Linked DNA regions of Homo sapiens. The protein of the gene in region 1 interacts with the protein of each later gene in a pairwise test. Each region holds a gene or a part of one and is shown in the gene's direction. Other genes may lie near its edges. The genes, in order: SMG7 and UPF1.

What was found.
Region 2: the proteins of SMG7 (region 1) and UPF1 interact in binary tests that used the Homo sapiens proteins (3 or more experiments, as listed by UniProt).

What each region holds. Positions count from the first base shown.
Region 1 is NC_000001.11:183,538,384-183,542,198, forward strand, and holds part of SMG7 (nonsense-mediated mRNA decay factor SMG7), read left to right. Parts: coding exon 1-57; intron 58-2,600; coding exon 2,601-2,720; intron 2,721-3,692; coding exon 3,693-3,815. UniProt on the Homo sapiens protein: Plays a role in nonsense-mediated mRNA decay. Recruits UPF1 to cytoplasmic mRNA decay bodies.
Region 2 is NC_000019.10:18,852,450-18,856,264, forward strand, and holds part of UPF1 (regulator of nonsense transcripts 1), read left to right. Parts: intron 1-537; coding exon 538-622; coding exon of another isoform or gene 623-655; intron 656-802; coding exon 803-901; intron 902-2,127; coding exon of another isoform or gene 2,128-2,151; coding exon 2,152-2,260; intron 2,261-2,429; coding exon 2,430-2,589; intron 2,590-2,674; coding exon 2,675-2,793; intron 2,794-3,475; coding exon 3,476-3,640; intron 3,641-3,736; coding exon 3,737-3,815. UniProt on the Homo sapiens protein: RNA-dependent helicase required for nonsense-mediated decay (NMD) of aberrant mRNAs containing premature stop codons and modulates the expression level of normal mRNAs.

The sequences.
Region 1 (3,815 bases):
ACCACTTCCAGAGGAGTTTGAATTACAAGGATTTTTGGCATTGAGACCTTCTTTCAGGTAGGTGATAGCTGAAGTACCTTTATCATTGCCAGTGATTGCAGTATTAAAATTAGCAGAGAATTGGGCTTGGATGTAGAGGAACCTTTGATCTGTCCCAGCTGTGTGTTATTTTTGTAACGTCAACTAATACTGAAAGTTGTTGTGAATTGGATTTGTGTATGTCACGCCTTCAATTCCTGTGTAATAAAAATTAAAATGTAACCTTTCCATCTGTGCCCTTGATCCCATCCCTTCTCACCTCCCTAAGAACCTTGCTCCATCTGTTATCCTCTCTGCATTGTATTTCCAGTGTCTTGTCTTTCTTTCCTTTCTTTTTTAAACAACTAATTATCTTTAGCCTAGTAACATTTAAGTGTGCCCCATTCTTTTAAAAAGGTAAAATGAATTTACATCCCTCTATTTTCCTACGTTGCCTTATCTTTTCATCATCAAACTTCTTAAAAAGAGTAGTATGCACTTTGGGAGGCGGAGGCAGGTGAATCATGAGGTCAGGAGATCGAGACCATCCTGGCTAACCCGGTGAAACCCCGTCTCTACTAAAAATACAAAAAAAAAAATTAGCCGGGCATGGTGGCGGGTGCCTATAGTCCCAGCTACCCAGGAAGCTGAGGCAGGAGAATCGCTTGAACCCAGGAGGCAGAGGCTGCAGTGAGCTGAGAGATCACGCCACTGCACTCCAGCCTGGGTGACAGAGTGAGACTCCGTCTCAAAAAAAAAAGAGTAGCGTGGGCCAACCTGACTGACTCCACTTCAACTCCTGATCATTTTCAGCCTACTGTGGTTTAAACTATCAGTGCCTTCTAGATACCAAAATCCAGTGACTATAGTCTTTATCCTATTGAATTTTCTTCAGCATTGAGTCCGTCGATTTCCTTCCTTCATGAAACCTTTTTCCTTAGCTCTGTGATGCAATTTTTCCCACCCTTAGCACTCAGTCTTTTTCACTATTTCTTTTAAACTACATGCCTCTGAATGTTGTTGTTTTCCAGGATTCTTTTCTTGCCCTTTCCTTCTCACTTTGTACATTCACCCTGTTAATCAAATCCATCCCTATGTCTCTTGAATGGTATGTCCCAAATTTTCAGCTTTGACTTCTCTTGAAGTTTGGATGCATATTCTAACAATCTGACCTCCCTTACGCATTTTAAACTTTAACGTGACCAAAAACTGAGCTTATATTTTCCGATTTGGTCAGCCAAAAAGCAATCTTCTTTCTCTATTTTCTGTCTGTGCCTGTGGCATTACCCATCTATATGACCAAGCTAGAAATCTGAAAAACCCTTGTTTCTATTTGTCTTTCTCACCAAGCCTTTATAATTATGTGTCTGAAATGCTTCTTAGGTTCAAGTCCTTCCGTTTATTTCCCTATACATAGTTCAGGCTTTTCTCACCAGTTTACCTGAAGTATAAAAACCTTCCTACGTATAGTTCTTCTCCTCCTATAGTCTGTTTCTACACTGCCTATAGTTTTTAAGTATGGAAATAGTGATGTTGCATGACTAATATTTTTATTTACCCATTCCCAGTTGCTCCACTGTCTCTTTTAGCTTGATGCTCAAGTTCCAGCACTATCCAGCTCCTAGTTGTTCAGCCTTATTTTCTTCCATTTCCCCCAGTATTTATAAACTCTATACACTATGTGCTATACTTGAATAGCTCACTATTTTTATTCCTCCACACCTTTGTTCATGTTGTGCCTAGAACATTTCCTTCTCCTCTACTGCCCTTCCATCACCAGCCTGGTAAGCACTTAGCCATACCTGTCAAGGTCCAGCTCAGGTATCACTCTATGAAACCTTTCAGAGCTTCTCAGAAGGAACTCATCCTCCTTTTACTATATTCACTTAATTCTTTACATAGTTCTTATTATGCTTATCAGATTGAATCATAATTATTTATTCCCAAAGGTAGGGACTCTTATTTATCTTTGTGTCCTCAGCATCTAGCCTTCTGCCTGGCAATTCTTAAATCTTCTTAAAAAAAAAAAAAGTTTAATAAGGAGAAATCTGAAAAATCTTTATTTTTTCAGGTTGGTTTACCCTTCTGATATCAATGAGTTATTCTATATGCTTTACGATATTTATACATTTTTCTGATTTAGAATGGTCCACCACAAAGTGGATAGATTAATATTATTTATTAAAATAGGCACCTCAGAGACTCTTAGCATTGCCATGGTCATTTCAAGCAAATTACTTGGCATGCAAGATAAATGTTTATAAAACTTTATTCTTAAAATGATAAAAGAATCTTTCCTAATAAAAAGTTGTGGTTTATTTGAGCTCCCTGACTAGAAAGTGAAATGTGAGTAAAAATATTACATTAATGTAATGAATTTGTATATTTTCTTTTCTGCTTTGTTTCATAGTTTGTAAAAATCTCTGGTAGTATAAATTCTAATAAATGCAGTTGATTACATCAAGTAGCTAACCTATGTGGGAAGTAATCTGAAGCCATTACAGTTAATCAGGTGAACTTGGTTGCCTGGAAAATATCTTTAGCAATTTAATATTCTCATAACTTGCTTGTGTCAATTTTAGGAACTTGGATTTTTCCAAAGGTCACCAGGGTATTACAGGGGACAAAGAAGGCCAGCAACGACGAATACGACAGCAACGCTTGATCTCTATAGGCAAATGGATTGCTGATAATCAGCCAAGGTAAGTCTGGAACTTCTGGTCTACCCCTTTTTAACCACCTTTTTAGATAAACACATGCGCGCACACGCGCGCGCACACACACACATCTCATATGTTACGTATTTTAGGCTTTGGTATAAATATTGTCAATCATGAACTCTTAAATCGACATGTTGGTAGCACAACATCTAATTATAACCCTAGTGAGTAAGTATACTCTTTATTTAGAATCTCTGTTCTCCCTATTGTGTATTACAGAGGTCTTTCTTGTTTATCGTGAGTTTCTGCTCTAATTTATAAATATCTCTGTAAATCTAACTGAACTGTACTTTCACAGTCATGGTAATTTGTATTGGCCTGGGCATGGTAGTCAGTTTCAGGCAGGACAGACCAAGATCGTGCTAGTAGCCAGTTAAGTACAAAGCAGATGTGGTCGTTAGTGTAGGGAAAAGAACGCAGGTTTTGTAATTCCATTGGTTTGAGTTCCGTTTCGAGTTCCGCAGCTTCTCAAGTGGGTGTCCTTGGGATCTCCCCAGTAGATTATAACCTTTCCAAAGTCACTAACTACTTCCTCATTTTTGTATTCAGGTTTCTGTCATACAGTAGGTAGTTAAATGCTTCCATGTTTGAATGAACTTACCACCTCCAAGCTTCAATTTTCACATCTATAGAATAGGAATTATATATAGCTACCTTATAGGACATATCAAGGGCCCTAGACCAGTGTCTTGCACTTGAAGCATGCTCAGAAAATGTAAATTCTAGCAAACGTTGAAAGAGCCAGAGGGATAGGTTGTGACGATGTTAAGTGTGATAATGAGAACCTCAGTTTCTACATAACTACTTTTTGTGTTACCTGAATCCACATTGTTATATCCTGCTGTTTTCATGGTTATTAGTGCTAGGAATATATTGACTTGGATCCACACACAATTCAGTTGTTATTTTTTAAGTTAATGTTTTTTATATATGGATTTATTTTTGCTTTTTTAGGCTGATTCAGTGTGAAAATGAGGTAGGGAAATTGTTGTTTATCACAGAAATCCCAGAATTAATACTGGAAGACCCCAGTGAAGCCAAAGAGAACCTCATTCTGCAAGAAACATCTGTGATAGA
Region 2 (3,815 bases), on another chromosome or scaffold:
GGCAGCCCGGTGGTCTGAGCCCCCGCCCTCAGATCTGACATCAGCCTCAGTGTTTTCTGTTTAAATCCAACACATCTTTCCCAGTGGGGTCCACAGCTTTGCCCACAGTTGCGAGAGTTAGACTCGGGCGTGATCCCTGTGAAGACCACATTTAGGCAACGGGAGCCCTGGAGCGCTGACCTCCCCTCCCTCCCTCCCCTCCTCTTTCTGTCCCTCCCTCCCCTCCTCTTTCTGTCCCTCCCTCCCCTCCTCTCTCTCTTCCTCCCTCCCACAGCAGCTGCTCCCTGGCCACGGAGGCCTCTGGTGTGCGGTGAAGCCTCCAGACGGGATTGGCCTGTGTGTGTTCCGGGGACTCCTAATGGCTTCTCTTTCAGATGTGCCCTTGGTGGCATTTGGGGCTGCAGGTGCCACTCACGGCGCCTGCTCTCACGGCAGAGGCTTGCTGTAGGGCCCGCCTCATGGGGCCTCGGGCATGTGGAGGCCAGGCCCGGGCCTGTGCTGGAGGCTAACCGGGGCTCTTGTTTTTCATGTGCTCAGACTCAAGATAACATCACTGTCAGGTGGGACCTGGGCCTTAACAAGAAGAGAATCGCCTACTTCACTTTGCCCAAGACTGACTCTGGTAATGAGGATTTAGTCATAATTTGGTTAAGAGGTGATTTTAAGTTTTAAAATATTTGTGACCATAAGTAGCATAAATTCCTAGTTCCACCCTTGTAAAGTGCCCCTTAATTTGAACTCTCCCTGGTGGAAGCGACGGCGTGGGTTAAAATGGCCACCTCTCTCACTTTTTTACCTCAAGACATGCGGCTCATGCAGGGGGATGAGATATGCCTGCGGTACAAAGGGGACCTTGCGCCCCTGTGGAAAGGGATCGGCCACGTCATCAAGGTCCCTGATAGTATCCTTCATGTGAAGAGGGTGTGGCCGGCTGGTGGGAGAGGAAAGTGGGGGCATCAGGTGGAGGCCACTGTGGATTTGATGCTCACTGCTGGGCCAGCATCTCATGCTCTGTGGTGGGTGCTGGTTGGCATCGCCCTCCACTGCTCTTAGGAGAATCACAGGGCCTTCACCTTCAGGGGACAGCTGGTTGTATGGTTGCTTCCCCTCTGCCCGAATGGTGATGTTGGTGATGCCACTTGTGTGGCGCGTCCCTGGGCTGACTCTGGAAGTTAATGTATGCCGCTTGTGTGGCACGTCCCTGGACTGACTCTGGAGGTTAATGTGGCTGCAGGAGCGCCTTACCTGGACGCTGACTCTGCACACGGAGGTTCCAGAAGCCAGTGGTCACATGCAGACCCTCTGAGCACACACTTGCTCCCAGGCCATGTTTGGGAATGTGCAGTGACCTCATGGTGATGCAGCCTGCCGGCCAGAGTGGGGCAGCTGTAAGGCACAGGTGCAGTCAGAGGCTTGGGTGGGGAGGAGTCCTGGGAGAAGACACCGCGGGTCAGACTCAGGCTGCCTCTTGGTGACTGGCCAATGCTGCTGGGGCCTGACCATTCAGCGGTGGCCTCCACAGGGGTAGGGAGAGTTGTCTCCCACACCCACCCTGGGCCTGACAAGCTCATCCTGAACACGTGAGACCGGTTTTGGGGCTCGGGGTCGAGGGAAGGGTGTTGCCTACCGGCCACAGCCTCCTGGAGGGCAGTTTGCTTGTGTATGTGGAGCCTTTTGCTTGGCCGTACTGGGAGGGGTGTTGTTTCTGTGGAACTGTGAGAAGAGCTGCTGTGGCCAAAGCTGGGTTCTGCGAGCTCTGCCTGCCCCTGCTGGCCACATGTGCAGGAGCTCCCGGTGAGGTCCTGGGGCCCAGGATGTGGCTGCTCCCTGCTGGTGAGCGCTGCTGGCTTCGCTGCCGCCCTCTGCGTCTCTGAAAGGGGCCTAGATGGGTGGCTGGGAGTGGCAAGGAGGAACTCCAGGCTGGCTGGGGGTGGGACACCGGCTCATGGTGAGGTAGAGTCTTTCTTCAAGGATGCTGTCCTTCTGGTCTCTGGTCTGGTGTTGGCTGCACGTTTTTAGCGTTTGGTGCAGAGCCAGCGGTGTCTTAAGTAACTAAATTTTAAAAACGCTGTTTAAAGAGCGTGTACCAAGGGTGGCCCAGAAAGGTCAGCCCGGCTTTTGACAAGGATGCAAACTTAACTCAGCACACAGATTATGGCGATGAGATCGCCATTGAGCTGCGGAGCAGCGTGGGTGCACCTGTGGAGGTGACTCACAACTTCCAGGTGGATTTTGTGTGGAAGTCGACCTCCTTTGACAGGTACGTCTTCTCCCATCACTGCCCCCTGTTCCCTGGTTGCCACCTGTGGCATCTTTATGAGCCCTCCCCGTCACTGTGGAGTGGGGTTCCCCACCCAGCTCTGCAAACTCAGGATGTCGGAGAGGCGGCCACAGCTGTGCGTGTCGCCAACCCCAAACCCTCCTCACAGGATGCAGAGCGCATTGAAAACGTTTGCCGTGGATGAGACCTCGGTGTCTGGCTACATCTACCACAAGCTGTTGGGCCACGAGGTGGAGGACGTAATCATCAAGTGCCAGCTGCCCAAGCGCTTCACGGCGCAGGGCCTCCCCGACCTCAACCACTCCCAGGTGCGCGCCGTCCTCAGCGCGCGGGGCCTCGCCCATGGGCCGGGACGCAAGCGGAGGCTGCCCCTAACGGCCGCTTGTATTGAAGGTTTATGCCGTGAAGACTGTGCTGCAAAGACCACTGAGCCTGATCCAGGGCCCGCCAGGCACGGGGAAGACGGTGACGTCGGCCACCATCGTCTACCACCTGGCCCGGCAAGGCAACGGGTAGGGCTGACACGGCCCTTGCGGGCAAGACCCGGGAGGGCTTTAGGGTGGCCAGATGGAAGGCCTGGTGCTGGGAGCCTTGGGCTCTGTCACACCGAAGAGAGCACGTGGCGGGTAGTGTCGCCATGGTGCCTACCGCTCTCTATGTGACATTATTCGTGTCAGCTCCAACCTTAGGATTGCATTTTAGTAACCAGGTCTGCTACTGGTTTAGAAAACTGGGGGCAGGGGGGGCATGGCTGCAGCAGCGTGAGTTCCGTGTGCGGCACTTTATAGTGTGGCGGGATGGTGCAAGTTCCAGCCTTGGCATTGCTTGCGGTGGGTAGAGCTGTGAAGCCTGGGCTGTCTGGATCTGAGCTCCTTCGGCATCGTGTCATTACTGCCTGTTAAAAATGTCAGGAGTTTAAGGCCAGCCTGAACAGGGTGAGACGTCTCTACAAAAAAAAAATTCAGAAATTAGCTGGGGGTAGTGGCGTGCACCTGTGGTCCCAGCTACTCAGGAGGCTGAGGTGGGAGGATTGCTTGAGCCCAGGATGTTGAGGCTGCAATTAGCTGAGATCACACCACTGCACTCCAGCCTGGGCAACAGAGCAAGACCCTGTCTCAAAAAACAGAGTCTTGGCTTACTACGTTCACCGAGCTTCCTCTGGGTAAGCACTGAGCTGCCCCAATGGTGTTGCAGGCCGGTGCTGGTGTGTGCTCCGAGCAACATCGCCGTGGACCAGCTAACGGAGAAGATCCACCAGACGGGGCTAAAGGTCGTGCGCCTCTGCGCCAAGAGCCGTGAGGCCATCGACTCCCCGGTGTCTTTTCTGGCCCTGCACAACCAGATCAGGAACATGGACAGGTGTGTGTCGAGTCCATCCCTCCCAGTTGGTCCCTGAGCTTCTGCGGGTGACATGTACAGAACTCAGGCACCCTGCTGACCTGCATGTGCTTCCAGCATGCCTGAGCTGCAGAAGCTGCAGCAGCTGAAAGACGAGACTGGGGAGCTGTCGTCTGCCGACGAGAAGCGGTACCGG